Linked DNA regions of Homo sapiens. The protein of the gene in region 1 interacts with the protein of each later gene in a biochemical or structural test. Each region holds a gene or a part of one and is shown on either strand. Other genes may lie near its edges.

Region 1 (7,038 bases):
CTAAGAAAAAAGTAAATCTGCCATTTTTGGTATTAATATAGCAATAAACTTTACATAAACTTCACTGAAAACTGGATCTTCAAAGACCAATGCTTTTAAAAATTTTTTTTTTTAATTTTTTTTTAAATTTTAAAGAGACAGTGTCTTGCTCTGTCACCTAGGCTGGAGTGCAGTGGTGTGATCACAGCTCACTGCAGCCCCAAACTCCTGGGCTCAAGCAATCCTCCCACCTCAGCCTCCCAAGTAGCTGGGACTACAGGCATGTGCTACCACACCTGGCTATTTATTTCTATTTTTTGTAGAGACAGGGTCTTGCTATGTTGTCTAGGCTGGTCTCAAACTCCTGGCCTCAAGCAATCCTCTTGCCTTGGCCTCCCAAAGTGTTAGGATTACAGGCATAAGCCACTGCATCTGGCCAACTGGTACATTTATCTGCCCAAGTTGCTCTCCTGCTCTCCCAAGTCTGATCTGTCTCAACAGCCTCAGGAAGCCCAAGCTGAACAGCATACCCTGGAGTAACTACTGCTACTCTTCAGCTGTGTACACATGACCTAGACTAAATGAGATAATAAATGGGGAAATTGTTTGTAAACTATAAGGTGCTATACAATCTTACAATATGATTTTAGAACACTATTTTCCAGAAAATGCATGTTAACTTAGCTTTTGTAACATAAATGATAGGTTAAAAGCAAAGTTTTCCTTTTATCTGTGTATTAAGAACTGTGTGGCAGAAGTTAAACCACACAATATTCCTTCCAAGGGCGTGCAGCACCCTAGTCTGGGCCAACCAGCTGGCTCACGAAAAAGACCATTCTAACCAATACTAACAAGACCAATACTAACACCAAAGCCTATTCAAACTTCTGACAAGCTCAAGAATGAATCTGAACATCCAAAACCAATGGATCTCTTATAATTACTGTGTAATATATTTTTACTATATTTTCTGTTACCTAATTTTAAGAAACCTATTCAACAACTAGTATATTTACAATGAAAGGCAAACTTATCCATTTCCTGCCTGACCTGCACCACTTCTTCTCCTTGTAAGGCCTCGATCTGCCTGGGCCGCCGCTGCCTGTCGCTGTTCCCATGGCCAAGTTTACCATAGTCACCATCTCCCCAGCTAAAGACCTCACCACTTTCAGTTAGGGCCATAGAGTGCCCATCAGAACCACAGGAAGTCACCAGCTGGGTCACCACAAAGCCTGGAACAGAACAGAAACCCAACAGGAGTCACTGGATGTTAAAACTCTCCTCTTTACTTGCAGCTGCTACTGAATACCCTCAATCAAAAACCACCGAATTGGTACTATGAAAATAAGAATAATTTCATTAGTTTTTTTTTTTTTTTTAGATGGAGTCTCACTCTGTCATCCAGGCTGGAGTGCAGTGGTGTGATCTCGGCTCACTGCAACCTCCACCTCCCCGGTTCAAGTGATTCTCTTGCCTCAGCCTCCTGAGTAGCTGGGATTACAGGCATGTGCCACCATATCTGGCTAATTTTTGTATTTTTAACAGAGACAGGGTTTTACCATGCTGGCCAGGCTGGTCATGAACTCCTGACCTCAAGTGATCCGCCCACCTCGGCCTCCCAAAGCGCTGGGTTTACAGGCATGAGCCACAGTAACCGGCCTAATTTCTTTAGTTTTAAATTGAATTTGTAGCCATAACCTAGCAAAACTGCGAATAGTCACCTAAAATAATGGTGATGACAAGGAAAACGAGGATGACAGCAATAGTTACAGTCATTAATGACTGGCTATGCTCTAGCCACTCCTATAAATGCTTTACATGGATTATCTCATTTTCTACTTTCACATAGCACCTATGAAACAGATACTAACATCCCATTTTTACAAGTGGGAAAACTGAGTCACAAAGAGGTCTCGAAGCTTGTGCAATGTCCCAGAGCCAAGGACCAGTAGAACCCATAGGAACCCAGCACACATTCTCATCTTTACTGCTGTGCTCTTCACACTCAGATCACAATGAAAAGAACCTGAGCTTCTAGGAACTTGTTTTGAACTCATAGTTACTTGTATGCTTTTACCTAAAAAAACCGTCGGTGCTCTCTTTGTAGGCTTCAGAGTCATTATGAGTTCAGTTAATGAGCAAGCCGGGGGCTTGTACAGTGGTTTCTCCAAAGGTGTTCTCTCTCCAAGTCACAAAGAACTCTGATGAAGATGTCCTTTAAAGTCTTTAGCACATTTGCAGATTTCCATATAAACTGATTTTTAATTTTAATGAAATACATGCATGATTGCTACTGCTATTAACATCTGCCTACTTACACTTTTGCAATTTTTAAGCATTTGTTTACAATCTTCAGTGGGTCTCAAAAAGTGTTATTTATATTTCACTGAATTCTAGCATTGCTATAAGTAACCTGCAATATAGCTTAAAATATGGAAATTAAGGCTGCACACATGCCTAAATAAGGATTTAAATGTAAGTGAAAACCTGATATGATTTTATCTAGCAAAGGTTTGAGAAGGGCAAAGGTTTGTACGACCAAACCTACATTAGGCCTTAGGTTCTAACCATCTTTTTATTAAGGACAATTTTACCTTGTAAGGCTGAAATAACTGTCAGCACATGAAGGTCATCTGAATTTCCTTGTCCTAATCTGCCATAACTTCCTTCCCCACAAGCCAACACTGTGCCATTGGCCTGGATGACAAAGGTACAATTCTGACCACAAATGACCTAGTATAAAAACACAGAATTAAATATTTTATTCTTTATTATATTGCTTTAACATGCAAGCACTTGAAATGATTCCACGTATACATAGAATGCTTTTATAATTGTTTTATCCTTTTACTGAAAGGGAAGAGTTGATATAACTATGCAGTCCCGTAACTCCTTGATGACTATAAAACTGCTTATTTAACCAAGAGATGTATGAGATTCATCCATTTAAAATAGTTTAGAACAACAAAATGGATGAAAGAAAAAGGAAGGGGTGATGGGGAAACATTAAAGACTGGGCTAGAAAGAAGCAGAAACTCGTACATAAGAATGAGTCATGCAATCTGGACTAGCTGAGGTAAAGAAGAGCAAAAGAGAAAGCAGAGGCCTCGAGAAGGGTTTGGCGCTATATCGTACCAGGATTATTAGAAAAGGGGAGTGGTCGATAAAATCTGGCTAAAGATCCTAGGAAGTTTTTAGCCCCAAAGAGAAAATCACTAATTAGGAGTATCTAAACTGCTAGAAATACATACTGGGCAGGCCTAACACATCATGATGTTAGTTCATTAAACTTGAAAGAAAAATTTAGAAATTTGTTAACTTCTTAAGTCTGATAAAAACCACACCAAGTTTTTATTTGAAAGCTATATATCATGACTTTCTTTAATGATTCCTCATAATAGATTATGAAATGGACAAGCTTTATCCCACAATAAGACAAGCAAAAGAATTAGAATTTTCAGTTCCCATGTTTCTTTTCTATTTTTTATCCTGTTAGTTACCTGTTGGGCCTGTGAGAATGAGGGAGCTGCTGCAGGTACCATTACATTTCTTCCAGCTTCTGCCAGCTGTCCATGCCTACCAGCACCCCATAAGTAGACATCACATTTACCTCCCAGGTGCCAGTCCTAGAAAACCACAATCATCTCAAAATTAGAGTCATCCATTCACTCAAACAGCCATGTACTACGTACCAAGTGTGTGCCAGCCTGTATGGGAGACACCAGGGCACAAACACACAAGCATTTAGAATCAAAACATTGACTGAGAACCATCATACAGTTATCTTCATCTTTACTGACCTCAGGTCTGGAAGTTGCCCAAGACATAATTTGTTCATCCATGCCGTTAATCCATTTACTGTTATCCTGAAAAACAGGGGGTACATAATGATCAATTCTGCTTAGGCAAGATGCACCTGCTCTTAACCACAAAGTCCTCTTCTAATCATTAAGTCTTATTTCCAAAAAAGAATATGGTAATATTATGATAAATTAAGAGCAGTTTTATAATTATGTCAAACTTGATTTTATGCACTGTCAGTATTTCCCTTTATTATAAACACTTTCACTATCACTATCACTATGGCATTGGTGATTCAAAGCTAGCCATGTGTTTTCTGAACACCCACAGGTACAAGGTCATGTGGAGGACCCCACACCCCTGTAAACTCTTTGTGTAGCTGTGGGCAAATTACTTCATCTTTCTGGGCTTCAGCTTCCTCATCTACAAAATTACAGAGTTGGGCCAAATGGGCTTAGAAGGACATTTTCTGATTAAAATATTGTATACTTTTGTGCCACGTGACATTTCAGTCAACAACAAACTGCATGTGTGAAGATGGTCTCTTAAGATTATAAAACCTTATTTTTATTATATCTTCTATGTTTACATACACAAATACTTATCACTGTTACAAATGCCTAGAGCATTGAATACAGTCATATTCTGTACAGGTTTGTAGCCTAGGAGTAATCAGACTATACCGTATAGTCTTGTTGCAAGTAGGCTGTATCATCTAGGTTTGTGTAAGTACTATACACTCTATGATATTCCCAGCGTCAAGATTGCCTAACAATGCATTTCTCAGAACATATCCCCATCATTAAGTGATGCATAGCTACAGTTACATAATTTTACTTAATTTATATTTGTCTGTTTCATATTGTATCAATGTTTATCCAAATGTTTGTATACATAAATCTTAAGTATACAAAGAGGTTGTTAGATCATGTGCTGTCCTGTAGTCTAAACAGGTATTTTATCTATGTCACAGTTTCTAGAGTAGACACTCTCAAATACAAACAGAATGAAATGACAATTAGAATGCTCTTCTATATTTTATTTGATGCTAATTAAAGACATGATTGAAATGCCAAATAAATTAGAATCTATATGTGGCATATAACCCACAAGATGACCAGGAAAAGATGCTAAGATATATACAACTAAAGCACTAACAAAGTACCTATGGACAAAAGAAAATGAGAAAATATGGGACTATGTCATTGAGAGGTGGCAGGTTTACAAGAGTTCAACAGTGCTTACATTATCAATTCCTGTCACTATGGAGGCCTGCCATCAGATTGAAAGTGACTATCTGAAAGAAAAATATTTTCCATTTCTCTTAAGGGTATCCTTCTAGCCATGCATACCAGCAAAGACTTATTAGGGGTCTGCTACATGCCCAATACCCATGATAAAATCTCAGCTGCAAATAATAGCAGCTCACAGTACATTTACCATTAGAAATACAAGTTCATCCTCTGGAACAGGTTCTAGATCTGGAACGGTAAAAGATTCTGGAAACTGGGCTCCATTGGTCAGGGCTTCGGCAGCTTTTATAGTGGTTGAGAAACATTCTAACCAGGCCCATTCATTTGGATTCCAGGATGCAGGGTCAGGGAGACAGTTCTGGTGGTGTGGTGGCACTGGAGGGTTACACAACAGCTGATCCAGATGAAGTCCCACAGCAAGGGAAGCCAAGCATTGCATATAGGGGCTATGAACAAGTTGGTCACCACAAACCACATGAGGCTAAAACAAAATACAAGGATATAATATGTCAAAGAGTTTGTGCCAAATATTCTAAATTAACCTACCGTAGTCTGAAAGTCTGGAATCATATTTTTCAAGTTTACTGTTTAAGCTTTTTGCTAGGAAATAATTTTAGATTTAGAGTGAGTTGTACAGATAGTACCGAGGATTTCTGTATACCCTTCGCCCAACTTTATCCAATGTTAACATCTTATACAACCCTGGCACATTTATCAAAACTAACAAACTAACATTGGTACAATACTAACTAAACCACAGAACTTTATTTGGTTTTCCTCAGTTTTCCCATTAATACTCCTTTTCTGCTCCAGGATCCAATCTAAGCTATCACACTGCATATAGTACATTTTCATCATGGTTTTTCTTGATTGGAAAAAAAAGCAGGTAACTATTTAACCACAGAGATCTGCTCTTCTCACTTTCCTCCTTTATAAGAGAATCCTGGTAGCCATCAAAGGAAAAGCAAAAAGCTGGAAGACAGGCTACTTTAGGATCACTGTCTGGACAAGTTCAAACGCTGCAATTCCTCATTCCAGTATTTAATGACCCTACTCAATTCAACATAGCTCTTCCACTAAATTTTCCACAAAGATTTATCTAATAAGTGGAGACGATATTCAGTCTGATACCCGCATCCATCCCTATCCCTCAACTTTGGAATGGCCAAGCCATATAAAAATAGATATATGTGTGGGTCAGAAAAGGGAAGATATTCTGCTGCATAGGTATTTTAAGAAGCTTTGGAGTGAATAAATAATCTGAAAAGCAGTAATACAAACTTGGTGTTTGTTTCTTTATTTTACTCTGGTGAAAATAAAGCAAGAATAGGCTTAGGGTTGCTGAACAACTCTTTTAGGCATGACTTACCTTCATTTGATTCTGCCCAAATAGCCCCACTTATTATCCTCAGACCTCATGCTTTTAAGGGATAAGTTCAAGGCTATAATCACATTCCAAAGCACCAGGTATCTGTGTATCTCTAGGAGTGAGTGTAATGAGTTACCTTTTCATAGGCATACTGCTCCTGAAGCATCATGGGGAGCCGCTCCAAAAATGCTCTCATGCAGGGAGCCATGTTCAATCCCAGAACACCCTGCTGTTTCAATGCTGTCCTACAGGTTGCCAAAACATGATTGGCAGCTGCCCATTCTGCTGTACAATTCACGACCAAAACATCCTGGTTGAAAATAAATCATGCCACATAATAAATTTGTTTAAATAAAAAATAATGCTATCACCATTTAATCTGCGAAATTCCTTCTAGTAACTGGGACATCTTTGCTTTTTGGATATTTTATATCCAAAAAGGCTATGCTTTTAATGCCTATGGAACTTCAAAATATCCTAAATTTTGTCTAAGTAAAAAATAATGAGAAATAATAAAATTTGTGAACTACCTCTGATTAGCTGGTACTTTTTAAGGAAAAAATGTCAATAATTAACTATTTCTTCAGAACCTGCAGAATAAGGCATCTACTATATTTCAAAAGTCATGTCTGACAT
Region 2 (5,225 bases), on another chromosome or scaffold:
GGTACCCATAGGGACTCCCAAGCAGCATAAAACTAGAATGAAAGCCCTGCGTGTGTGCTGACTGTGGAGACATCAGGAAGGGGGAGCTGGGACATTGTGTCCCAGGCAGAGCTAAATGTGGGGGAGAAGGGCCTTTTGGACCAGCGTGGGTGGTAGCCCCAGGGTGGGAGAAGAATTCAGCCCAGGTCAGAGGTAGCCTGTGGGGGTCCTCAGATATGTGCAGCTGCTCCACCAGCTCTGTAGCTAAAGGACCTCCCAGACTTCCTAAAGGGTGGAAACTGCATGAAACCCAACGAGATGAGAGAAGTTCATGGGGAGGGGCGAACGCCTTCCATCGGAGTGGGGGCTGCAGAACCATACTCAGGCCTCTATGGGATTCTAGAGGCCTAGTGTGAGGTTTTATTCAGTAATAAGCCAGATGTATGCCAGGCGTGCCCAGGTTCCCACAGTCTGGCCTGATGGAAAGAGGGGTAGCAGAGAATACAAAAACTAAGTCAGGGTGAGGGGATTGCACAGTTTATTTCCAAACACTCAGAGGATAGGGGGTGGCCTATGGGCTCCATCTGCCTCCCCTCCCTGCATTTGGCTGAATCAAGAACTTCTCCCCCCTGACCCCCAAGACCCTAGGCTGTGCCCAATAGAGAAGGCACTGTCACCCCCCACCCTGAGGAGACCTAGACAGGTGAGGAGCATGGAGGGTGGGGGAACAGAGTTCAAGTATTCACAGTTCCCCCATCTACACCCCTGGATTACACTGTGCCAGAGCCATGAGGGAGGATCCCACCTCTGGGATTCCTAGTGGTGTTGATAGTCCTTCTCCCACTTAGAACCCTCCAGATGAACTCCCTACTCCTTTTCCCTGATATAACAAACCAAGTCCTAAGCCCTGTAGTCTGGGCAAGGAGGAGCCTTAGCAGGCCACTCACCCAAGGCCCCCAGGGATGGGGGTGAGAGCCTTCACCTGTAGTGAATGGGTTGGGAGCAAGTGTCTATAAGGAGAGAGGAAGGGAGAGAACTGAGAGGACCTTGGGAGGCAGGCTTGGAGGCTTCTGACACGTGAGTTCAGACAGCTCTGGTCTGCGACTCCACCCCACCCCACACCCCAAGCCCAGAATCCCTGAGAGTCCAACTGCAAAGGCAGTATGGCCGGAGGGAGGAATGGGAGCAGGGGTAGAGTTGAGCAGGACCTTGGCCCCCCTCTCCTAGTAGGTCCTGCTCCTGGGACACATGCTTAGGGACGGCCAGGACCAGGCTCAGGTCCTAGTCCCATCTCTTAGGGTGCTGATCTTCCAGAATAGCTGAATCCTGGGGAACATAGACCCACCAATCCCCACACCCCAGACGTCCTGGCCTCAGGTAGAATGGTGGGAATGGGCTCTCACAAGGGTATTATAAAAAGCTAAAACCGTTAAACACTTTCTGGGGAGAAGTGGCTCCCAGTCTCTTGCCTCCCCAAGTTATCAGTCTCCCCAGCGCCTAGCAGACAGGGCTAAGGAGGTCCCAGAGAGCTGAGGGAGGAGACGGCCACAGCCCCTGGGCCCAGAGAGAGGGCCCACTAGCACCATGCAATGTTGAGGTGCCTCTGCAGCCTGACTGGCCCCCACGCAGGGGCCCTCCGAAGCTGGAGTGCACACTTGCTAAAGCTTCTGTACTCTTGAGGGGGGACCCCTGCAAGGGAACAGAGAAGGCAAAGACTTCGCTTAAGTCCAGGCAGGGGTCTGAACCGGGACCCCAAAGGGCACCCTTGGGAGTCATGATTTGAAGAATCTTCGTACCACAAACTGGCCCAACAGAACCACACCCAGAACCACCAGCACGTTCAGGATGGGACCATTGCCCAAGTTCAGGGCTGCCACCTGCCGGGAGAAACAAGGTGGTCACAGAGAGGCTAGCAGAAGATATAGGAACCCGAGGAAGGGGTGGGGCCTGGGAGAGGGGCAGCCCCAACAGCAGGGAGGACATTGCAGTCCTTGGATACTCACCCAGCCACCCCTCTGTGCAATCCACCGGGCAATGCAGTGATGCAGCATGAAGTCGACCACGAAGCGGGTCACCTGGCCTAGGAAGCCAGTCAGGCCATGCTGGTAGACGTGTAGGGCCAGACGGTAGCCGAAGCCCAGAAGAGCCACCACACGGCCCCAATTGATGCCACTCTCAAACAGGCTGTGGGCAGAGCATCCCATAGCATTGGTGGAGAGCCCCCAGGAAGCCCTTCAGCCTGCCTGGCCTCTCCCACCCCTCTCCCAGCTGGAAGCTAAATAGCTTAGCTGTGAATTAAGGCCGCAGAGGCTGCCCCAACCTGGCCTGTATTTGGGAACAACCTGGGTCTCTGCGAAAGGAGAAAGCTCAGGGGCAGATGAGCTGGATGCCACTGCTGGGGTGTACGCTCAGGTGCAACGGGGCACAGAGAGGGCAGAGGGCAGAGCAAGTGGATGGAGTCAGCGGGGAGATTACCTGTGGGTGTTGCTGCTGGCCTGGCAGCCCGAGGGACAGCAGAGAGAAAAGGACAGAAAAGATTAGGGTAGTTCCTGTCATCACAGTGGTATGAAGGCTGGCCTCTAAGTTCACGGACTGGATATTTCAGCTCTGAGCACTAATTCTAAAATCTATCACTTACTCCTACCTTCACCTCCAGTTTCAAATCTACTCCGACACTGACTTCCCTAACTCTGGTGGTAGCAATGGCTAACACTTTGTAAGGTGGACACTAATCTAAGCATATTTTCCCTATTTTACAAACCAGGAGACTAAGGGCTAGGAAGCTTCACGAAGGCAGTAAGTGGCAAAGCTTGGATTTGCACCCAAATATTCGGTGTCTTTAACCACTTGGATGCCAGATTATAGCAAGTAGGAGCCATTTCTAGGACCTGGCAGAGGTTAGCACCCTCACCATCTTCAGTGTGATATGTGGTTTCAAATTGGAACTATGAAGGACAGCTATGTCCCAGCTGGGCTGGGGAGCTGTGGGGGACGTCCCCACCTCAGGCCCCCTCTAGAGTCCTGATCTAACCAGTCAAGACCTTGGAGTCAGAGCTCAAAAGAGCTGTGAGCTAATGCCCAAAATACAAGTCTGGGACCCCGAAAGAGAAAAATAGGGGGCCGAGACCACATGTGAGTTCACAGCAGACATTGGACACTGACAGAAGGCTTCTCCCCATGCCAGGAGAGCATCATGCAGGCAGGGTATGGTATGGTTGTGACATGACAGAGGAGTGACTGGAGCTGGCAGGGAGGTGGCTGGGGTACCTGGTGGCAATCTTGGTGAAGTACTCATAGGCATTCTCTGCCGTGGGCTGCAGGTGCTGCAACATGGTCTGGAACTCTGAGTCATAGCGTCGGTTGATGTCGTCCCCGATGATGGCGAGCTGCCGTCCCACCTGCCCCATGGTGCTGTAGGAGCAGGAGGCATGCAGGTGAGCCAGTAACCAGGCAGTCGGGACCAGGCCCTGGCTCATGGCAGAGGGGTTCTGCCTGAGCTGTCCATGGCCCTGTGCATCCCTTCTTGGAGGTCCCTGACAGTGTTCTAAGACATGAGTGCTGGGCTCCAGGAGAAGGGGCAGGCATGGGCTAAAAAGGATACAAGGTCCTGGATGGGGGTGGGAGCCCAACATAAAAGAGGAGCAACCATGAGAGAAGGGCAAGACCCCCGAGGCCTCCCCAGCTCCCAGGACCTGCACAGAGACCCATGCGAGCTACTGCCTCCCTGAAGATGTCCTTGTGGGCCCAGCGGTTGTAGCTCACCTGCTAGGTTGCAGAGGTAAGGTGACCATCTCTGGGTCGGCAGGGGCAGCCACCCCTTCAGCCTCCTGTTCCTGCTGATGGCGGTAAAAAACGTAGCTGCGGAAAACCTCCTCTGTGTCCTGGGCTACCTGCTCCTCTGAGGATCAAAGCTGGGAGTCAGGGAGAGAGGGCCGAACCCTGGCAGCCCCATGCCTTATAGGGGATTCACTCTTCCTAAGGCCATAGCTGTCCTCACCCATGGAAAGAAATATCCCAACCAGGTGCGGTGGCTCACGCCTATAATCCCAGCACTTTGGGAGGCCGAGGTGGGCAGATCACCTGAGGTCGGGAGTTCAAGACCAGCCTGACCAACATGGAGAAACTCTGTCTCTACTAAAAATACAAAATTAGCCGGGTGTGGTGGCACATGCCTGTAATCCCACCTACTCAAGAAGAGGCTGAGGCAGGAGAATTACTTGACCCCGGGAGGCGGAGGTTGCGGTGAGCGGAGATCGTGCCACTGCACTCCAGCCTAGGCAACAAGAGCGAAACTCTGTCTCAAAAAAAAAAAAAAAATGGCCGGGTGTGGTGGCTCATGCCTGTAATCCCAGCACTTTGGGAGGCCAAGGCGGGCGGATCACGAGGTCAGGAGATTGAGACCATCCTGGCTAACATGGTGAAACCCCGTCTCTACTAAACAAAATACAAAAAATTAGCCAGGCGTGGTGGGAGGCGCCTGTAGTCCCAGCTACTCGGGAGGCTGAGGCAGGAGAATGGCGTGAACCCGGGAGTTGGAGCTTGCAGTGAGCCTAGATCACGCCACTGCACTCCAGCCTGGGCAATAGAGCGAGACTCCATCTCAAAAAACAAAACAAAACAAAACAACAACAACAAAAAAAACAAAAAAAAAAAAAAGAAAAGAAATATCCCTACTTCAGCACCTTAGCCGCCCCTAGAGCTTATGCTGTGTGGAGAGTTGTTCCGGCACTTGCATTGAGTCCTCACAGTAGCCCTGGGAGCAGGCAATCCCCAGCTGGCAGGGGGAAAATGGCACAGGGTGTCTGAGTAACGTGTGCAAGGTCATACAGCCAGAACAAGCCGGGGAACCGGGACAGTCCCGGGCATTTGGGGTCCTGAGTCTACATTAGTACATCTCAGCTCCGCAGCCCTTTGCGTGCAGGGAAATGTGGGAAACAAAATCTGAATTTGTAGCTGCGGCCCAGAAAAGTCACACAGGGAGATAGTGACAGACCTGGGACCTGATTCCCAAGTCCAGGGAACAGCCCGCCGTGAGGTGTGAGCTGGGGCTTCCCTGGCTATCCCCTGGGAAGAGGGAAGGAGGGCAGCCATCTTACTTCCTCCCCAAGTCACAATAATTGCGTTCCCTGTTGAGCAGACCTGACTGGGTGATTGGCCAGCTTACTTCCTTATTTCTCCCGCTGGAGGGATACAGCAGCCAGGCCCCACTCTAATTCCTGCCTCCCTCGCCCGTGACCCAGCCCTCT
Region 3 (7,758 bases), on another chromosome or scaffold:
TCTGATTAAGATCCGGAATAATCACCCACCCAATGGGATCTCTTAGAGGGAAGCGCTGGTTAGAATCCCTCCAGGCTGAGATGCAATCATCGCCATTGAGCCTGCCCTCCCCTAGGGAAACCCCACAAAACCATCCTGAGAATCTCAGCCCTCTTTGGTCGGTACCTGAGACTGCATAGACCTAAACTGAAAGGTGATCGAAGGGGAGGAGCAGTTGCTCGTGCGGAGGAAGCTCTTGGGGCCGAAGTGGCCCCGGCCGAGTATGTCGCAAAGGAGGCACCACTGCGTTGAGCGCTTACTGTATCTTTACTTTTAAATCACCAAGGCAAAATCACCTTCAGCTAAAAATGCCTGAAAGACTTTTTAAAATAGTGGGAGTGGGCGTTAGGGGGAAGAGATGGCCTAGGAAATTTTCCGCAGGGCGTTCTAGGGATGAGTTGAGGGAAGCCGCATGACGCGCGGCTCCCCGGTGCCACAGCTAAGGACAGATATTTTCGCAAAACCCAGAATGAAAAAAGAGCACGCTCCCTTTGGGAGCGCTGTCCCTTTGGGACTGGGGCCTTCCACTCCCACCCCTCCTTTTTCCCTGATCGGCTCCGCAGCTCCACGACAAGCCAGCTGGTCTGGTCTCTGACTTGGGCTCCGGTCCGTACCCCCGGGGCGCCCTGCTGTGTTACAGCCGCCCGACGCCCCCAGACCCGGCCAGGTCACCAGGGCAGATTGGAGGTTCGCGCCCCCTCACCCGACACCTCCCGTCCACCTCATCTTTCTTTTTTTCGAAAACAGGAAAGGGAAGAAAACTGAAACGGGCCTCTTGGTCTGCAGTTTTAGCGGAGTCGGGATTCCACAGCCCTGAGTGGCACATGCCGGTCAACTTCCCAAAGTCGGGCTCCCGTGTGGGGAGAAATACACACGCAGGAATGCACAAGCATCGCGTGTTCGCAACTGTCGCTGGGAGGTCTGGCGGCTGTGATGGGACATGCACTCACTCGGGCAACACGTCCACAGGTGACATCTATTCGATCAGTCAACAGATATTTATTGCGCACCTACGACGCTATCTGGTACTTTCCTTTTCCCCTTAGCTGTTGCTGTCCAGCCCAGCGCCAGTCCAGAGACGGGCTTACCGGCCGCTCCCTTCCACAAGAAACTCGTGTCCGGCGTGAAGAGCGGACGATAAACACTCTCCAAGCCCAGCGAAATGTACTAATTACAGGAGCGGCTGGGAGCCCGCGACACGGGGACCTGTCCCTCCAGGGATAGGAGTCTTCTACCTGCAAGGGACCCGGCCTGGGGAACTGGAATAGACAAGGGGTAACCCCTTCTCCCATCACCTCTAATGAGAACATTGTCCGGGGCTGAGATATTTGGGGGACGCCGCTGCTCACCCCACCAAACTTTCCCTAGGGACAGAAAAGCGTCCCTACCGAAAACGGATTTAAACACCGTCCCCACTTTTGCTAAGGAAGTTTGGATAGGGAGGTTGTGGTCCTTAATTCGCCAGGTAAAAGGAACCCCATCAGCTCGCATCCCTCACCCCCATCCTGAGCACTGAGTGTTTGCGAGAAACTCGCCCTGCGCCAGCAACTCTGGGCTCCGGTCTCAGCTCCCGCGTAGACGCGGAGGAGAGATTGGCGGCCCCCGCTGGGGAAATTGAGCCCGGCGCCGGTCCGGGACGTGCAAGAGGGGGAAAGGGGGAGATCCCAGACCTCGGTTTCCCGAGGGCTTCCCTGGGGAGCCACTCGCACCTCTGTGTCTCCGCTCCCGGCGGCAGACCTCGCGGCGCTTGCTCAAGAGCGGGTATCCGAAAGCACGTCCCGAACACGGAGAAGCGCCCTCCGTCTCCTGCCTCGTGACCTGCGCCCTTTCCCTCCCTCACCGCATCAGATGGAGGACCCTGGCTCCTTTCGCCCCTGGCAAAATGCTCTAGCCAACACTGGGTCAACAGCCTTAGTTTCCAGATCTGTAACCTGAACATCAGGAGCGGGTTCCTTTCCTTCTACCTGTGTCTGAGGTCCTCTGGTCGGGGACTGCGCGCGTCTTCCCAGGTCAGGGAGGAGGGGTCGGGGCGACCTGAGAAAGACACAACGAAGCGAATGGAGCCCCTGAATGGGGAAAGGGGAGTGGACACCAGGAGGCCCCTGCAGAAATGCAGGACCGATCCACTCGCGAGCTGACAATGCCACGCGCTAGACTTGGCCTGACGGTGGCAACGCTTGGCACCTGGGGGATAGGGGCCTTCTCCTGGCCTCAGTCCCCAAATTCTGCGCAGAATAGAACGGCTGGCATCTCAAGTGCTCTTTTTTCACCCGGATCTCTACAGACACAAGTTCCCTCACTGAGCTGCGCAGAGGTGGATCCGCACAGGAGGGAATATCGCGTAGGAATTCCTGCAAATATAAATCTCAGCAGCAAAGCAGTCCAGATTGACTGGAACACACCACCCCCAGCCACCACCATCCAAGTTTTCCCTGGTTCTCGGAGTTGGAAACAGTTTCTGGGCTTTTGGCGCCCCCTCTGGATACAGATGAAAACTGCAGTCCATTTTTAAGTCGCCTGTTCATAAGTTTTCAGGAAGATGTAAAATTCAAAAATGCTTGCATCAAATCAACGGGAAATGTATAAATCCCCGTCGTTTATGATGTAAAACTCTACATATTAGTATCTTATTGCATAATTGCATTAAAAGTATATTTATACATATACGTATATATCTTGACATATATTTAGTGAAATATTCCAAAATATCTTAAAGTCATAGCCCTCTTCACTGACTTTATTCCAGCAAACATGGTAATTACAATATCATACAACTAAGTACAGACGACCTGGCTAAAATGTCTGCCCGATGGTCTCCGAGTCTCCTGAATCAGGTGTCTGAGAATTACACAGTTATACTGTACACACAATGCCCTTCTACCCGGGACACAGAAATAGGTCCACACTACGCGGACTTTTTTCTCCTAGGAAAGGACGATGCTGTTCTTACACTTTCTGAAAGTAATCACAGAGCCCTGGATACGAAGCTATTGTATGCAAATCTCTTAAATTTGTAAACGAGCTATAGGGCACCAGAAACATCCCATTTGAAGAAGTTACATTCGTTAAAAAAAAAATGCTGTTGAACAAGGCTGTAACTTACTACCTTATGAAGAGTTCCATTTCCTATAAGAAATGTCGGGCTTCTTCCGAAGACAACGAGAGAAAACAAGATTTTAAGAAATTCTCCCGGAAGGACATTGATTTGGATCTTGTGATAGTGTCCTCACTTCGCAAATTAGAAAGGGAAAAAAAAACTAGTTTTTATTATGATGTGGGCCGATTCACCACAACAATAATTTAATTGAGGCGAATTTTTGCAAGAGCCCAAAAGGGTGGGGGGGGGGGGGGAGTTTAAAATTAAGAGTTTCCCAATGCTGTGCGTTTATTTGGGATTCTGAAAGCACAGAACCCGCAAGCGACCAAGACTTTTCTTCTATCCCAGAGCAGATAGCTCCGCACTTACCCAACCTGGCTCTAAGCATTTCGTGTAAACACAAAGGTTGTGCTCAAATCACACTTGAAATACATGAGAGACACCACCAATGCCTCCCCCAGAACTCCCAACTACATGCAGGTCTGAACCGACCGGACTAGAGTCAGAAGCACCGGCGCTTCACCCCTTCAGGTGTTTCGTAAATGCCAGCAAAAGCAGGCAAGCAGCATGACTCCGCCAGAGTGGAGCGTTTTGTCTGCGGTGGTGCCCATTTGTTTGGTCTTTTACAAACCAAGTGACCGGCCTGGGCCTCGCGGCCCGGGACAGCCGCATTGGCAAACTTCTATCTCTCAAAGCCAGAGCAGTTAGCAAACTCTCCCCCAGACAGGGCGACTCGGCTGACGTTTTTGACCCGGCCAGGAGGCAAAGACCAAAACGTCAGAGCAGTAGCCCTGTTACTGAGGAGCGTCGGCAGGGTCGCGGGTAGAGGGGGCTGGAGAATGACTTGTCAGAGCTCAAGGTCGATGTGGCGCGGGGCGGCCTCGAGAGCGCCGGGCTCCTGCGTGGCCACGGCCGCCGCTGCCAACCTTCGCGGGGACTTAGCTTTGCTTTCCATTGACTCCCTTTGCAAAAGCGCAGCAGAATCCTGACCAGCCGCACCAGCCCCGGCGAACCCGAGCATGTTAATCTATTTATATGGATTATTACGGAGGAACAGCGGGCGTTGAGTCACCAAAACATTTGCTTCAAAAGACTATTTCTAAGCACTTTTGCAGGCAGGCAGGCTCGCTCCAGGCGCGTAAACTCGGCTACGCATTAAGAAGCGGCTGCTTTTCGAATACTGCAAACTCCAGCTAAGTCCCCGGTGCCGCGGAGAGAGCAGTGAAAAGAAATGTCGGAGGTGGGGGTAGATCCTAGTCTAGACACACACACTTGCGCGCACACACACACACACACACACAAGATTCGCGCGGAGAAGGCACTAAAATTCTGGCATTCCGAGAGTACGACAAACTTACACACTTGGAAGTCCCGGGTCCCCCGCCTTCCCCGCAGCACCCCCCGCCCCCCCACCCTACCGTCCGCCCTTTGGCTGCGATCCCCTCCCCTCTCCTCCCCTCCCGCCTCGTCACCCAGCCCAGTGCCACAATCCTCCTCCCTCCCCAAAATCGGGTCCAATCAGCTGCCTGCCAACCCTGGGACTGCTGTGCTGTGATTGGCGGGTGGCTCTAAGGTGAGGCGGAGTATTTATTAAAGAGACCCTGGGCTGGGAGTTGGAGAGCCGAAAGCGGAGCTCGAAACTGACTGGAAACTTCAGTGGCGCGGAGACTCGCCAGTTTCAACCCCGGAAACTTTTCTTTGCAGGAGGAGAAGAGAAGGGGTGCAAGCGCCCCCACTTTTGCTCTTTTTCCTCCCCTCCTCCTCCTCTCCAATTCGCCTCCCCCCACTTGGAGCGGGCAGCTGTGAACTGGCCACCCCGCGCCTTCCTAAGTGCTCGCCGCGGTAGCCGGCCGACGCGCCAGCTTCCCCGGGAGCCGCTTGCTCCGCATCCGGGCAGCCGAGGGGAGAGGAGCCCGCGCCTCGAGTCCCCGAGCCGCCGCGGCTTCTCGCCTTTCCCGGCCACCAGCCCCCTGCCCCGGGCCCGCGTATGAATCTCCTGGACCCCTTCATGAAGATGACCGACGAGCAGGAGAAGGGCCTGTCCGGCGCCCCCAGCCCCACCATGTCCGAGGACTCCGCGGGCTCGCCCTGCCCGTCGGGCTCCGGCTCGGACACCGAGAACACGCGGCCCCAGGAGAACACGTTCCCCAAGGGCGAGCCCGATCTGAAGAAGGAGAGCGAGGAGGACAAGTTCCCCGTGTGCATCCGCGAGGCGGTCAGCCAGGTGCTCAAAGGCTACGACTGGACGCTGGTGCCCATGCCGGTGCGCGTCAACGGCTCCAGCAAGAACAAGCCGCACGTCAAGCGGCCCATGAACGCCTTCATGGTGTGGGCGCAGGCGGCGCGCAGGAAGCTCGCGGACCAGTACCCGCACTTGCACAACGCCGAGCTCAGCAAGACGCTGGGCAAGCTCTGGAGGTAGGACCCGGCGGGGGCGGCGCGGCAGGGTGGGCATCGCGGCGGCTGGGGGCGCTGGTCAGGGCTGATTTGCCCCGCCCCGCCTCCCATCGCCCGGGAGTTGCCGTTCCGGGAGCCGGCGGGATGGGGTTGGGAGTGGGAATGGGGTGTAACTGTGGCTCAGAGTTTGACAAAGTTCTTGGGCTGCTCGCGGGGACGCGGAGGAGGGGGGTGGTAAGTGGAAGAGGTGAGGGAGGTAGCTGGAGGATGGACGAAGACTGGTGGGAGACGGAAGGAGGGGGCTGCCAGCCTGCTCTCCAGTCGCCTGGAAGCTCAATCGGGGCGGGGAAGTGAAACTTGCCTCCCTCCTACCCGGCCTCTTAAAACTGCACTCTCTCGTGCAGCCCCACTGTCCACGGAGATGGGGCAAGGGAGAAACCGAGGTTGGAGGAGACCCTTGGCAGGAACTGGGAGGCGGGAGGAGGGAGGCTACTGGAAATAGGTGGGAGTGTATGGTGGGGGGTGAGAATTGGGGACCTTCTTGCAGCTTAAGTAATTTGGGGGAAAGTTTTCAAAGGGGGTTGGGGTTGGGGGCGGTAAGTCGAGCAGCAAAGGCGTTTAGGGGGCAGCACCGGGAGTCGTTTTCATCTCCAGCGTTTCCAAAATAGAAATAGAAGGGGAGGGGAGGGAGGGGGCGGGGAGTGACCGCTCAGGTCAGACTGCAATAACTTATTTATTTATTTATTTTTAAGAAAAGTTATGAGCTGTGGTTGCAGGCAGGAGGGAAGATGGAGTTGTGTGCAGAGGAAGCCGAGTGGTCTGGGTCGCCGCCTCCTCCCCGCCGACCTGACAGTTTGGCGGATTTCACTGACCCCTCTCCCTCTTTTTCTCTGTGCCCCCCGCCCCGCCCCGAGCAGACTTCTGAACGAGAGCGAGAAGCGGCCCTTCGTGGAGGAGGCGGAGCGGCTGCGCGTGCAGCACAAGAAGGACCACCCGGATTACAAGTACCAGCCGCGGCGGAGGAAGTCGGTGAAGAACGGGCAGGCGGAGGCAGAGGAGGCCACGGAGCAGACGCACATCTCCCCCAACGCCATCTTCAAGGCGCTGCAGGCCGACTCGCCACACTCCTCCTCCGGCATGAGCGAGGTGCACTCCCCCGGCGAGCACTCGGGTGAGTCGCCCCTCGACCCCACCGGACAAGCTATCTCCGTCCCGCCTGGCACACCCCCTGCCCTCCGCCTGGGAGATTCTTCGTGGGGACTTTATGCTTCCCGGGAGGGACACACTGCCCTTTGCGCCCGTCCCGCTCCCCTCTCTACCCAGAGCCTAAGAGGCATCCAAACAACACACACACAAACACACACACCCCAACTCAATCCCAGCATCCGAAGAGATTAACTTTTTTATTGGGAGGTAAAATGCCCTTAACAGCCTTACAAGACCTCTCCCTTCTTCTCTGCTCCCCCACCCCAAAAGCACACACAGGGCTCTTACACAAGTAGCAATTAGGTCTTCCGGACCCTCCGGGCCCCAGACCCTCCCCTGATAAAAGGGGGCTGTCCAGTGTGTACCGGCGGGTTAATCATTGGGCGACTTATCTCCGGTGCAGCGCGCCTCTTGCGCGGGTGCGGGCCCTTATTACACTTTAGCAGCGAGGGAGGGTCCCCGGAGGGTGCCTAAGACTAGGGCGTCTGCACAGCCCTTGTTGATTTTCTCGTGCTTGTTCTTTTATTGTCCACAGGGCAATCCCAGGGCCCACCGACCCCACCCACCACCCCCAAAACCGACGTGCAGCCGGGCAAGGCTGACCTGAAGCGAGAGGGGCGCCCCTTGCCAGAGGGGGGCAGACAGCCCCCTATCGACTTCCGCGACGTGGACATCGGCGAGCTGAGCAGCGACGTCATCTCCAACATCGAGACCTTCGATGTCAACGAGTTTGACCAGTACCTGCCGCCCAACGGCCACCCGGGGGTGCCGGCCACGCACGGCCAGGTCACCTACACGGGCAGCTACGGCATCAGCAGCACCGCGGCCACCCCGGCGAGCGCGGGCCACGTGTGGATGTCCAAGCAGCAGGCGCCGCCGCCACCCCCGCAGCAGCCCCCACAGGCCCCGCCGGCCCCGCAGGCGCCCCCGCAGCCGCAGGCGGCGCCCCCACAGCAGCCGGCGGCACCCCCGCAGCAGCCACAGGCGCACACGCTGACCACGCTGAGCAGCGAGCCGGG
Region 4 (7,038 bases), 8.6 Mb from region 1:
CAAAAGGGGAGCATTATGTCACCGGAAGCCCAACCCCAGAGAACCAAAGGTATGACCTGATATTCAGTGGCCCCAGCCAGGTCTTTACAGGAAGACCCTCATATCTCAGGTCTAAGAAGAGCCAGCTGATGGTTTTTAAAAAGAGTGGAATTAGTTACTCCAACCCACTTATTCAGATCTTATTTTGTTCACAATACAGTCCCTAGATTGTAGGCCCATTGGAGGCCACAGCAAAGCCTTTGTGTTCCAGTTGGCCTGATGTGCCATCTCTCAGTAATGTTCCCTTAACAGCCAGACTTCCCTAAGCCCAGCTGGGAGCTCTGAAGGTATGCGAGCCCTCCCTCAACCATGAGTGTAGGGAAAGGGACCAGGGGCCCCAGGCTTTCCTGTCAGTAATGCAGAAGTTCCTCAGATTTAGGGAAGGGGGAGCAGAGGCATAACTTTGATTCTGACAAAGAGGCATTCAGAGAGACTGAAAGGTCATTTAACAAACACTGGAATGCTTCCACATACTAGGTGCTAGGAGATACAAAACCATATAGGTCCTGGAAGGGAGGATTGATTTTTTCATTTTGGTACGTAGTAGATATTAGGGGCTTAGGAAATACACATCGAAATGAAGAGTGCATTTGCCATGTTGAACCGTTAGCCGGTATCTTATTTCCCCATTTTAAAAGTTTTAGAATCTGTGGTTGAGGACTTGTGGCCATCAGTTTTCCATAGCCAACAGACTGTTCACTACTGCCTTCAGAGCTCCTTGGACCTCAGCGGGCCTTCTTTGGAGATGGCAGAGATGGATTTAGATGTATACTCTACTCGAGCCACCCAGAGAGCCCACAAAGTCAGAGATGGAACAGGGTAAAGGAGTAAGGGTCATATGTGTGAGATGCCTTGATTTGGAACTTTGAGATTTAGGATGAGGTGGGGAAGGGCTAAAGAGGAGCTTGTTCCTGAGCCTTGCTTGGCCGAAGCATTTAGGCTCAAGCGTTTTAGAAAGAGTAGCCCTTGGTCTGAGAACTCAAGGAAACAGCTTTCTGATGAGACGTGTAGCAAGCTTCTGGTTCACATCCTTACCTGATAGTTCTTCAAACACTGCCTGGTCTGGTTCACATCCTTACCTGATAGTTATTCAAACACTGCCTGGAAGCTTCTCCTGAGTTTTTGTCTCTAATCAGCTAACTAACAGGCTGAGTGAGTTTAGTTGTAAGTCATTAATGAAGAAAGCAAAGGTTGGGGCCATTGTCAGGGTTGTGACCTGGGCTAGTTAATTACCTGGAACTGATGGTCTGTGTTACAGAGTGGTGGTATACTTGTCAGGCTTAGAAAAGAAATCAGGATGTGTATCAAAAATCATTTGGGGAAAAGATTTGACCAGCAACTTTAATTTCTCTATGTTTGCAACTATCCTGTTAATGTAGTTGTGATAATTTCAGAATTATACCAGTGCCCTTATGTTATCCTTGCTTTGCAAATTGCAAATTGCTTTGCGTGTCCTGACATCCTTCTGGCCAACAGTAGATGTGGTTTTAGGTTTAGACTCCTGGGATGGAAGCTTTTGCATTCAGGGGAATGACTTTGGGTTTGGGTGAGGATTGTAAAGAGGCAATATGGGTGCCCCACGACAAAGCAGCTATTTGTAGCTTTGTGACAGCTTGACATGCAGAGATCTAGGCTTATCAAGGCACTAAGCTAGGAGTCAGTTGTTTGTATCACTGGAAGATTGGTTACAACTTCCTTCATTGGAAGCTCCTTCAGTGCATGTTAAATGATGTTATTTATAGATAGGGTGGTGAGAAAGCTGTCTAGGTAGATGTCAGTCAGCCCAGTGTAAGAGAGACCTGCTTACTGTGGGTGCTTGGGACTATGTGGAGTGGGTGGGAGGTTTTAACTTGTTCAGTAAGGTCCTTTCCATTGTTCACAATCTGGTGAACCCTTTTTCTAACATGAGGAGCACCCACATAACCAGATCATGTCTGGCTTCCCTGTGGCTTGTGTACAAAGCGTGCTTATTGAGTTAATGTGTAAGCAGGAGACAGCCTTCTGTGCTAAATGGTATATTAACCACTTCTCAGTCTTACCACTCTCTTTCAATTTGTCTCGACCCAGGACCTCAGCAGCCATGTCGAAGCCCCATAGTGAAGCCGGGACTGCCTTCATTCAGACCCAGCAGCTGCACGCAGCCATGGCTGACACATTCCTGGAGCACATGTGCCGCCTGGACATTGATTCACCACCCATCACAGCCCGGAACACTGGCATCATCTGTACCATTGGTGAGTGGGTGTGCCCCTTCCCCCAAAAAAGGGCTTCATGGGCAGTGACCTTTCTCTCCTGAAAAGAGTAACTAAATGTCCTAACAAACCTAGGTGCTACATGGGATACTACACAGATTCTTATGAAAGGACTCAGGTCATAGGAAGTTGCAGTAAAGAATTAGTATGTGCATAGGATGGCAAATACAGTTAATAAGAGAGTATTAGACATTTCAAAATTGCTAAGATGGCGAGGTATGGTGGCTCCCAGCACTTTGGGAGGCCAACGTGGGAGGATTGCCTGAGCCTCGAAATTTGAGACCAGCCTGAGCAACTTAGACCCTGTCTCTCCAAAAAGTGAAAAAAAAAAAAAAAAAATTAGCTGGGCATGGTGGCATGCACCTGTAGTTCTGGCTACATGGGAGGCTGAGACAAAGATCACTTGAGTCCAGGAGATTGAAGTTGCAGTGAGCCATGATCACACCACTGCACTCCAGTCTAGGCAACAGAGCGAGATCCTGTCTTAAGAAAAAAAAATTGTCCGGGCGCAGTGGCACATGCCTGTAATCCAGCACTTCGGGAGGCTGAGGCAGGTGGATCACCTGAGGTCAGGAGTTCGAGACCAGCCTGGCCAACATGGTGAAATCCCATCTCTACTAAAAATACAAAAAAATTAGCCGGGGGTGGTGGCGGGTACCTATAATCCCAGCTACTTGGGAGGCTGAGGCAGGAGAATTGCTTGAACCTGGGAGGCGGAGGTTGCAGTGAGCTGAGATCTGACCATTGCACTCCAGCCTTGGCAACAAGAACGAAACTCTGCCTCAAAAAAAAAAGGAAGAAAAAAGAAAAAAACATCGCTAAGAGTAAATTTCAAATGTTCTCACCACAAAAATGTTAAGTATTTGAAGTCATGGATATGTTAACTAACCTGATTTAATTATTCCACATTGTATCCAAACTGTATGTATTGGATTACATAACTTTGTAACCCAAATTATAAATTACCAGTTTATAATAAAAAATAATTTGTTGCAAAAAGAATCCATATGGTTTAGGTTTTATGCTATAGGCAAAATTTAGAAGATGTTTTCCTTAGCAGGTCTTTGTAGGAGCAACTTAAAGACCTAGGAAAGATCTTTCTAACATGTTCTGTGCTACCAAGATTCTGTGGTTGGACATCTGGCTGGGTTTCAGTGAGGGTGGAGAAGGCTGGCCAAGTCTTAACCTAGGCTTTTCTGATACAGTGGGAGCCTGCAGAACTTGAAGGAAATGGTCGAAGTGTCCCAGTAGATCAAGAAAGTAAGCTGGCACGGTAGTAGCCTTCCATGCACTTTTTAAAGACTTTTGAGCTATTTGGGAGAGGAAAAGTTTTCAGGGAAAAAAATTCTTTAAACTTAAGCAAACTTAAATGTTTTTCCTTCTTTGAATAATTAATACTTGTGGCTTTAAAACTTTTCCTAATAGGCCCAGCTTCCCGATCAGTGGAGACGTTGAAGGAGATGATTAAGTCTGGAATGAATGTGGCTCGTCTGAACTTCTCTCATGGAACTCATGAGGTGAGCTGTGGCTGGACCCTATGGCCATTGTGATGGCCTGTAGGAAACAGGGAGGGGGTGCAGTGTTCGTTTAGCCACAGTGGACTAGACAAGGATGAGTCTGAGTTTCACAGTCAGTGTGAAGTTTGTCTTTACTAGCCCATCCCTACTCTCCTTCCCTCTTGTCCTGACAAAGCAACTGGCTGAGTCTCTTTTAGCAAAAAGGACCCCCTTTGTTGCTGGCTGTGGTTCTCCCACACACCTCTCCTACCCTTAGCTTTTACAAAGGAAGATATGGAAAGGTTCTACTGGAAAACCCTCTAAGCCTTAGGTGTCCTGGCCACAGCGCTTGACTCTCCTGTCCCAGGGTTTCTGCTTCACCTTGTGTTGCCATGGTAAACCATCTAGCAGATTGATTCTAGCTTAGAACCAAAATAACTGGGCAGGTCCATGAGAACGGTTTCCACTATTCTAAGTTTTGAGGGACTGAGCCTAATGCATAAGCACTATCTGGGGTGTAATACCCCACTTCCTCAGCACTGTATTCTCAGCCTGTGCCTTCCCAGGGGTTCTGGTACATTAAAATAACACCAGTTAGCACTCTTCCCCAGGAGCCTAGTAGGACTGTATTTGTGCTGGGCTCTTTATTAGCTGGCTTTACCTATGGACAGAGGCCTTGCCCAGGAGCCAGGTAGCAGCTGTTGGGATGGCTCCATTCCTGCCTCCATTGCCAGATTTAGAATTAACCCATTCTGAGGAGCTTGGGGTTCCCTGAGGTACCATGACTTATTTATTTTTTTATTTTATAAAACAAAATTTTGCTCTGTCATCCAGGCTGGACTGCAGTGGTATGATTATGGCTAACTGGATCCTTGACCTCCCAGGTTCAAGTGATCCTCTTGCCTCAGCCTCCCGAGTAGCTGGGAATACAGGCATGCACCACCACACCTGGCTAATTTAAAAATTTTTTTGGGGGAAATGAGGTCTCACTATATTGCCTTGGCTGGTCTCAAACTCCTGGGCTCAAGTGATTCTCTCAAATGTTGGGATTACAGGAATGAGCTACCATGCTCAGCCTGGGATTGTGCCTTTTTAAAACCTTCAGACTTAACCATAGGTTTCCCATAGATCATGGGATTTCGTAATGGCATTGATAAGAGGAATTACAGAAGAGGCAAACTTTGCACCTGTCTTGGCTTCTGTATTTCCTGTTGAGAGTAAAGAAAATGCTATCCTGTAAGGCCAATTGCCTTACAGAGGTTGCCCTCTGGCATTTGGAAGTTGGTATTAAGTTTGGACTAAAAATAAAGCCTCAGGAAATGCAATCCAAGAGTGAATTCCTCCTTTTGGGAAACACAAGACTCTTCATCATAGATTCCCTAACCTGTGTTCATAAACAGCCTATGGCCTGGCTAGTGGCTGGCCCTTAAATGTCATGGGGACCTGACCAAGTCCAGCAGACATACCATGTAGGTTAAGACATGTCCCTGTACCTTTTGGAAAATTCTGTAGTTTTCCAAAAGCAAGGGGTCCTTAGCAGGAGTCACCGAGAATTACTTGTTAGAGAATTAAGTGTTAGCTTAGCTTAGAGAGAGCTGAAGACAATGCTGGAGGTCTGTTCGCTGTTGATCCCTGCTGCTGTAGTCTGCCATGGGCTCCTGCATTCAGGGGAAGGAGCAGAAATAGATTTTTAAGAAGTTGACCTTTAAGTAGGCTTTATGGTTCCTTCATCCAGTAAAATAACACCACATAGCTCTAACATGGCAAGGGCGAGTGATACCTGCCACACCTGCTGGATGAGAGCTGGCTCCGATTTTGGTATTTTAAACTTTAAGAGGCTTTTGGAGATTATCTCTACTTTCACTCCTATTCCCAGATTATAATTAAGATTTATTTTTTATTTTTTATCTATTTATTTTTTAAAGATGTCCCTCTTGTGTGTTCATTTTGAAGTTTTAGACCAAGATGAGGTTGTGTGTGGGCTCAGCTTGGAAACTGATCTGAAATTATTCTAATTTATATAATGTAATGTAAACAGTTTCAGCCTTACCATACGTCAGGGCTATCGTTTCATGTGCACCTTTGACTAGGGGCTGGGGCGTACTTTTCCAGTTTCTGACTATTTTAAATGCTCTTCTGAGCAGAACGTTGAGATTACTGTCTTCCCTCTCACTCTGACAGAGGGACATCAAATGTCTGCATCTGATCTTTTAACAGCTTTTTTTTTTTGAGACAGAATCTTGCTCTGTTGCCCAGGCTGGAGTGCACTGGCACAATCTCTGCTCACCACAACCTCTGCCTCCCAGGTTCAAGCAATTCTCATACCTCAGCCTCCTGAGTAGCTGGGATTACAGACCTGTGCCACCACGCCCAGCTAATTTTTTTATATTTTTAGTAGAGACGGGGTTTCGCCATGTTGGCCAGGCTGGTCTTGAACTTGTGACCTCAGGTGATCCGACTGCCTCGGCCTCCTAAAGGCGTGAGCCACCACGCCCAGCCCTCTTTTAACAGCTTTGGCAACTAGTCTTCAGCCCTCACTTTTGGCAGTTCACATGGGCAAGATGCATTCTTGCTGAACATGTGGTTCCATATGCCATGTTTTCCAGATTTATTTATTTATTTATTTATTTATTTAGAGAGGGAGTCTCGCTCTGTCATCCAGGCTGGAGTGCAGTGGCACGATCTTGGCTCACTGCAACCTCTGCCTCCTGGGTTCAAGAGATTCTTCTGCCTCAGCCTCCTAAGTATCTGAGATTACAGGCACCTGCCACCACACCCGACTAATTTTTGTATTTTAGTAGAGACTTGGTTTCACCTTGTTGGCCAGGCTGATCTCGAATTCCTGACCTCAAGTGATCCATCCGCCTTGGCCTCCCAAATTGCTGGGATTACAGGCGTGAGCCACCACACCTGGCCTAGAAATAATGACTTTTAAACAACCTAAATGTAGAGCCTTCCACAGGACAGCATTGATGGATGCTTTACCACATAACATCCCAATAAAGCCACAGCTGAAGTGGAAGACTCAGTACACCTCCCAGAGATGCTCTAAGAGATTATGATATATGACATAGATTTGAATAATATACCTAATAATTGGTATGTTTATAATATATGGTTTTACATCCCCAAGACCAAAAATGCATGTTTGCATGAAACACTCATGGTTACAAAAATATATTAGGCCACCAAAAAAACCCCCACGTTTCATAAAGTAGAAATTATACAGACACATTCTCTGATAAAATTTT

The links.
Region 2: the proteins of HERC1 (region 1) and BAK1 interact in a test that uses a peptide from one of them, tested with the Homo sapiens proteins (one study listed by BioGRID).
Region 3: of the proteins of HERC1 (region 1) and SOX9, one has a biochemical effect on the other in vitro, tested with the Homo sapiens proteins (one study listed by BioGRID).
Region 4: the proteins of HERC1 (region 1) and PKM form a complex in vitro, tested with the Homo sapiens proteins (one study listed by BioGRID).

What each region holds. Positions count from the first base shown.
Region 1 is NC_000015.10:63,634,932-63,641,969, forward strand, and holds part of HERC1 (probable E3 ubiquitin-protein ligase HERC1), read right to left. Parts: intron 6,713-7,038; coding exon 6,539-6,712; intron 5,515-6,538; coding exon 5,221-5,514; intron 3,846-5,220; coding exon 3,780-3,845; intron 3,606-3,779; coding exon 3,480-3,605; intron 2,713-3,479; coding exon 2,574-2,712; intron 1,212-2,573; coding exon 1,030-1,211; intron 1-1,029. UniProt on the Homo sapiens protein: Involved in membrane trafficking via some guanine nucleotide exchange factor (GEF) activity and its ability to bind clathrin. Acts as a GEF for Arf and Rab, by exchanging bound GDP for free GTP.
Region 2 is NC_000006.12:33,572,052-33,577,276, forward strand, and holds the end of BAK1 (bcl-2 homologous antagonist/killer), read right to left. Parts: intron 3,878-5,225; coding exon 3,742-3,877; intron 3,391-3,741; coding exon 3,247-3,390; intron 2,475-3,246; coding exon of another isoform or gene 2,264-2,474; exon of another isoform or gene 2,170-2,263; intron 2,164-2,169; coding exon 1,983-2,163; intron 1,857-1,982; coding exon 1,752-1,856; 3' UTR 501-1,751; downstream 1-500. UniProt on the Homo sapiens protein: Plays a role in the mitochondrial apoptotic process. Upon arrival of cell death signals, promotes mitochondrial outer membrane (MOM) permeabilization by oligomerizing to form pores within the MOM.
Region 3 is NC_000017.11:72,116,269-72,124,026, forward strand, and holds the start of SOX9 (transcription factor SOX-9), read left to right. Parts: upstream 1-4,751; 5' UTR 4,752-5,123; coding exon 5,124-5,554; intron 5,555-6,450; coding exon 6,451-6,704; intron 6,705-7,274; coding exon 7,275-7,758. UniProt on the Homo sapiens protein: Transcription factor that plays a key role in chondrocytes differentiation and skeletal development.
Region 4 is NC_000015.10:72,214,179-72,221,216, reverse strand, and holds part of PKM (pyruvate kinase PKM), read left to right. Parts: coding exon of another isoform or gene 1-49; intron 50-2,106; coding exon of another isoform or gene 2,107-2,119; coding exon 2,120-2,273; intron 2,274-3,716; coding exon 3,717-3,808; intron 3,809-7,038. UniProt on the Homo sapiens protein: Catalyzes the final rate-limiting step of glycolysis by mediating the transfer of a phosphoryl group from phosphoenolpyruvate (PEP) to ADP, generating ATP.